2 separate regions of the Homo sapiens genome follow, and region 1 is linked to region 2. The links come from fine-mapping of genetic effects on gene expression. A gene starts in region 2. The other region holds a variant in brackets. All regions are shown on one strand. Distances are from middle to middle. Region 1 has its middle 12 kb from the start of LCE3A. Region 2 holds the start of LCE4A (late cornified envelope 4A).

The links. PIP is the estimated chance that this variant, and not a neighbour inherited with it, causes the effect.
Region 1: its variant is the best candidate, but not a certain one, in a credible set for the expression of LCE4A in sun-exposed skin (GTEx, PIP 0.57).

Annotation. Positions count from the first base shown.
Region 1 is chr1:152,633,514-152,636,441 of GRCh38, forward strand. No RefSeq gene overlaps it. Among named protein-coding and RNA genes, the nearest start is that of LCE3A, 12 kb to the left of the region's middle. The variant G/T (reference allele first, on the strand shown) is at 1,342.
Region 2 is chr1:152,706,748-152,709,675 of GRCh38, forward strand. LCE4A (late cornified envelope 4A) reads left to right here and starts at 1,413. Exons shown (of 2, transcript NM_001387222.1): 1 at 1,413-1,647; 2 at 2,308-2,687. The coding sequence starts at 2,329. The coding sequence ends at 2,628.

The sequences.
Region 1 (2,928 bases), 73 kb before region 2:
ATCTCACACCAGTCAGAATGGCTACTATTAAAAAGCCAAAAAATAACAGATACTGGCAAAGTTGTGGAGAAAAAAAAATGCTTATACTCTGTTATGGGAGTGTGAGTTAGTTTAACCATTGCGGATAACAGTGCAGTAATTCCTAAAAGAGCTAAAAACAGAACTACCATTCAACATAGCCATCCCATTACTGGGTATATACCCAAAGGAATATAAATTGTTCTACCATAAAGATACATGCACACATATGTTCATTGCAGCACTATTCATAATAGCAAAGACATGGATTCAACCTAAATGCCCATCAATGACAGATTGGGTAAAGAAAATGTGGTACATATACACCATGGAATACAATGCAGCTATAAGAAATAATGAGATTATGTCTTTTGCAGGAACATAAACAAAGCTGGAGACCATTATCCTTAGCAAACTAATGCAGGAACAGAAAACCAAATATCACACATTCTCACTTATAAGTGTGAGCTAAGTGATGAGAACACAAGGAGGGGAACAACAGACACTGGGGCTTACTTGAGGTTGGAGGGTGGGAGGAGGGAGAGGATCAGAAAAAGTAACTATTGGGTGCTAGGCTTAGTACCATGGTGATGAAATAATCTGTACAATAAACCCCTATGGCATGAGTTTACCTACATAAAAAAACTGCACATATACCCCTGAACCCAAAATAAAAGATAAAAATTAAAAAACTAGAGGAATCATATTACCTGACTTCAAATTATACTACAGAGCTATAGTAACCAAAACCGTATGGTATTGGCATAAAAACAGACATATAGACCAATGGAATCAAATAGAAAATCCAGAAATAAATTCATATATCTCCAGTAAACTCATTTTTGACTAAGGTGCTAAGAATATACATTGAGGAAAGGACAGTCTCTTCAATAAGTGGTGCTGCAAAAACTGGATATCCATATGCAGAAGAATGAAACTCAACCTATCTATGGCCATATAAAAAATCAAATCAAAATGGACTAAGACTTGATGGACTTAGACCTCAAAATATGAAACTACTATAAGGAAACATTGGGGAAACTCTCTAGGATGTTGATCTGGGCAAAGATTTCTTAAGTAATATCCCAAAGCACAGGCAACAAAAGCAAAATGGACAAATTGGATCACATCAAATTAAAAAGCTTCTGCACAGCAAAGGAACAATCAATGAAGTGAAGAGACAACCCACAGAATGGGAGAATATATTTGCAAACTATCCATCTGACAAGAGATTAGTAACAACAATATATAAGGAACTCAAAAAACTGTATAGGGAAAAAGTCTAATAATCTGATTTTATTTCATTTATTTATTTTCTATTTT[G/T]GGGATAGAGTCTTGCTCTGTCACCCAGGTTGGAGTGCAGTGGCATGATCTCAGCTCATTGCAAACTCTGCCTCCCAGTTCAAGTGATTCTCCTGCCTCAGCCTCCCCAGTAGCTGGGATTACAGGCCCAAGCCAACACACACAGCTAATGTTTGTATTTTTAGTAGAGATGGGGTTTCGCCATATTGGCCAGGCTGGTCTCAAACTCCTGACCTCAGATGGTCCACCTGCCTTTGTCTCCCAAAGTGCTAGGATTACAGGAGTGAGCCACCATGCCTGGCCTAATAACCCGTTTTTAAAATTGGGCAAAAGACATGAATAGACATTTATCAAAAGCAGATACACAAATGTCAAACAGGCATATGAAACGGTACTCATCGGCGCTTGTTAGAGAAATGCAAATTAAAACTGCAATGAGATATAATCTCACCCCAGTAAAAATGACTTTTATCCAAAAGACAGGCAATAATGAATGCTGGAGAGGATGTGGAGAAAAGGGAACACTACTGGTGGGAATGTAAACTCGTACAGCCACTATGGAGAACAGTATGGAGGCTCCTCAAAAAACTAGATATAACTACCATATGATCCAGCAATCCCACTGCTTGGTATTTCTCCAAAGGAAATGAAATCAGCATGCCGAAGAGATATCGGTGCTTTTATGTTTATTGCAGTACTAATCACAATAGCCAAAATTTGGAAGCAACCTAAGTGTCCATCAACAGATGAATGGATAAAGAAAATATGGTACATATATACAAGGGAGTATTATTCAGCCATAAAAAGAATGAGATCCTGTCATTTGCAACAACATGGATGGAACTGGAAGACATTATGTTAAGTGAAATAAGCCAGGCACAGAAAGACAAGCTTCTCATGTTTTCACTCATTTGTGGAATGTAAACATTCAAGCAATTGAAATCATGGACATTTTATATACCGTTAGATGTAAAAGAAGAGAAGACCTGCTTTTGGAAATGGAAAAGTAGGTTACTTTATACAAAATTTCCACAGAGAATAACTGTAAAAGCTAGAAAAGACAAAATAAAATATCTGTCTAAATATGTCATCAACCTATCAATTCAGTGAAGATTTTTGGGACCAAATTCTAAAAAGCAGAGAAGCCAAGAGACAGCCTAGAATGTAACACAACTTTTCTCTTGATACATTTGCCAATTCTGAAAAGCTGTAGCTGGAAGTTGAGAATATGAGTATATCTGTCAGAAAATTCATAGGGGTCAGGGAGGAGGGAGGACGAAAATTAGATTTAGGGCTGTCAAGAAGGAGGGGTTCTGGTAAACACTCCAGGATTTGGTTGGAGCCAGAAGGGCTATAAACTATGAATGAGGAGAATCAGAAATAGAACATCCTGGCAGGGCACAGTAGCTTATGCCTGTAATCCCAGCACTTTGGGAGGAGGAGGTGAGGGGGTCACTTGAGCGCAGGAGTTGGAGTCTAGCCTTGGCAACATGGTGAAACTCCGTTTCTACTAAAAACACAAGAATTAGCCACAAAAATTAGCTGGGTGTGGTGGTGTGTGCCTGTAGTCCCAGCTACTTGGGAGGCTGAGGCAGGAGAATCGTTTGA
Region 2 (2,928 bases):
TCTCTCCAGTTCTACTCTGAGGTCCTGAGGACAGGAACAAGGTTAATTCATTGTATTTCTCACATAACTGAGGCAGTGCTGGTCACAGATTAAGAGCTCAATGTGGTAGGTTGTTGCTTGTTACCACATCCCTCTATAGCTGATGATTTGCTTGCCAGAAACACCATTAACATGGGGCACTGGATTGGGAGAGAGATGGAAAATGGGAGGACATTCCTACAATAATACTTGCCAGAAAATCTGCCTTCCACAACAATTCCGTTCCTGCTGTCTAATACTCATTTTCTGAGTTAGTAATAGCAGAAATTACTATAAAAGTAGGTAATTTCTGTCTTTACAGAGAGGAAATATAGGCTGGGGGTTTAGTCATCTTCCTTGTCATCATTATCAATGTCTTCATGTTCATTAATATCAGCTAACTTTTGTCATTGTTAGACATCTATTTTGCATAGTAGGTATTTCCAGAAGTACCTCGTGATTATATGTGTATATACGTATAACATATATGATATACATAAGGAGAAATAAATCAATCTTAATGGGTTGCATGAAGAGTTGTATCCTATATAAACCTTTTGAGAATTAGAGCAACACACACCAAATTTCTTTTTCTTGTTGGTTTAGAGTGTTTTGATGGGTAAAAGGGAAGAGTTTTTTCTATGATGGGAAAAATATTTTCCTCATAATGATCTTCTTATATGTTTGTTGAAGAAAAAAAATCAGTCCTTTTTTTAAAAAATGGTTGCAATAAATGCAACTTGTGTGTGTGTGTGTGTGTGTAGTTGACAGACAGATACTTCCACAAAAGGTTCCTGAATTGGTAAAAGTCTCAAGTCTCTGATCTGTGCTCATGAGCTACTTAAATGCAGCAGAATCACATACACAACACACAACAGAAAAACTCAGAAACTCCTACTCAAAAGGCCCCTTGATGGTGACACATTCCTTGGTAACCCAAATAGAAGTAGTCAAATATGATAGCCTTTGAATTCCAGGCTGAAGGGTTCATAGAAGAGAAATTCTAAAGAGAAGAGTGGCTGACCGAGGGGCATCTCTCTCCACAGTTAGGACTGGGGACTTGGCCTGGTCTAAAAGCATGGGAGATACTCTCTAAAAGAGTAAGGAGGCCTATGGCACCAAACCAGCCTCTCAGGATTGACTGACCTGGGAAAGGCCCAGAGCCTCTGGCTGAAATTTGGCTGGAATATGTTAGGGGCTAAATGTGGGGCAGTCTTGGAGCCTTTGGTGCCAAAGTTCTTCCTGAGGGACTGAGCAAAGCGTGTTCAGAGGGAGGCTTGAAAGGTAAGTACCCATAGCCTTAAACCCCTCTGTTTGCTGTACATTGAGACCTTAGCCTGGGAAAAGGGTCTGATTTACAGAAAGTCTCATATAGTCACCCCCTCTCCCACTAGTGCCGAAGAGGCTATCTGGGAAGCTCATCATCCAGCTCAGGAAGAGATGAAACCAGGAGGCAGGAGAATGTCAGGCATGACCCCACACTTGTGCAACAGCCACGTCCTGCTCCTGCCATTAGCATGGCTCATCCGAGGCCCAGCCCCAGGATCCATACAAAGTGTGTTCCTGCTGCTGGCTTCTCATCTGCTCTGCTTCCTAAGGGACGTATCTGTTGCTGCGTCTGAACCCACGGTGAGTGTTTCTATAGGAATCCAGAGGGGGACGCTAGCGGGATGAAGATGGAGATGGAGAGTAATTCTGGAAGTCGAACAGTGAAGCGTGGAGTAGGAGGAGGATGACATGGTGGACAAGGCCAGAAGGCCAGAAGTAGTAGTTGGCTCTGGACAAAGCAGGAACCAACCTGGGAAGGATTATCCCTGTGATCAGACAGGAAGATGATGAATGACCTGGGATTGCTACATCCCTACCAATGGTTGGCCTGCTGGTCCTAAGCCCATTGCTCTGAAGGAAGCTTTTCTCTAACCGTGCAGATCTCAAATTTATTATTATTTATTAAACAGATTTTCTACGAATTTCTGAATTCCATTTCTAGATAAATTCATGTGGGTAGAATTGCAATGTATTTAACATGTCTTTGAGATGGCATTCAAATTTTGCTGGCTTTATTAGCTCAGAAGTCACTTATTAACCACCTAACAAATACTAAGAATTTTTGAAAGCTCTAGGGGTACAAAAGTAATGAAGATATACTCTTTGTCTGAAAGAGGTTTCTATACATGTCCATATTTTAGATATTCCTCTTCATCACCTTGGGGGAGGATTTTAAAATAAAAAAAAATGTAATGGCTCTTGATATTAAGTTTCTGTATATGTTTCTATTTTGTCATTCAGGTTTATCGAAATCCCACCAAGATGTCCTGCCAGCAGAACCAACAGCAGTGCCAGCCCCCTCCCAAGTGTCCTATCCCCAAGTATCCCCCAAAATGTCCCTCAAAGTGTGCATCCTCATGCCCACCTCCAATCTCTTCCTGCTGTGGCTCCAGCTCTGGGGGCTGTGGTTGCTGCAGCTCTGAGGGAGGTGGCTGCTGCCTGAGCCACCACAGACACCATAGGTCCCACTGCCACAGACCCAAGAGCTCCAATTGCTATGGCAGTGGCAGTGGCCAGCAGTCTGGGGGTTCTGGCTGCTGCTCTGGAGGGGGCTGTTGCTGACCTGGACCAGGAGCAGCACCAAAGGAATTAGTGGGCGAAGGACCCATTGCAGCCTGGTGTTTTACCTCCTTCACTCTCTTGCCTTTCCTTTCTGTAGCCCCATCAATTGAATAAACATGCAGGTTTGCGTCTCATCAACTTCAGGCCTTGGATTTGCATTATTTTAGCTTTATGTCAATATTTATATTTCTCAGATTATTGAAAAATTTTCTGATGTGCTTTGCAACAGTAAATTTACTTTCAAGTAATTTTCTAGTCCCAGTTTGATGGTGGTTTTTATTCCACTTTTCTTCACTTTTA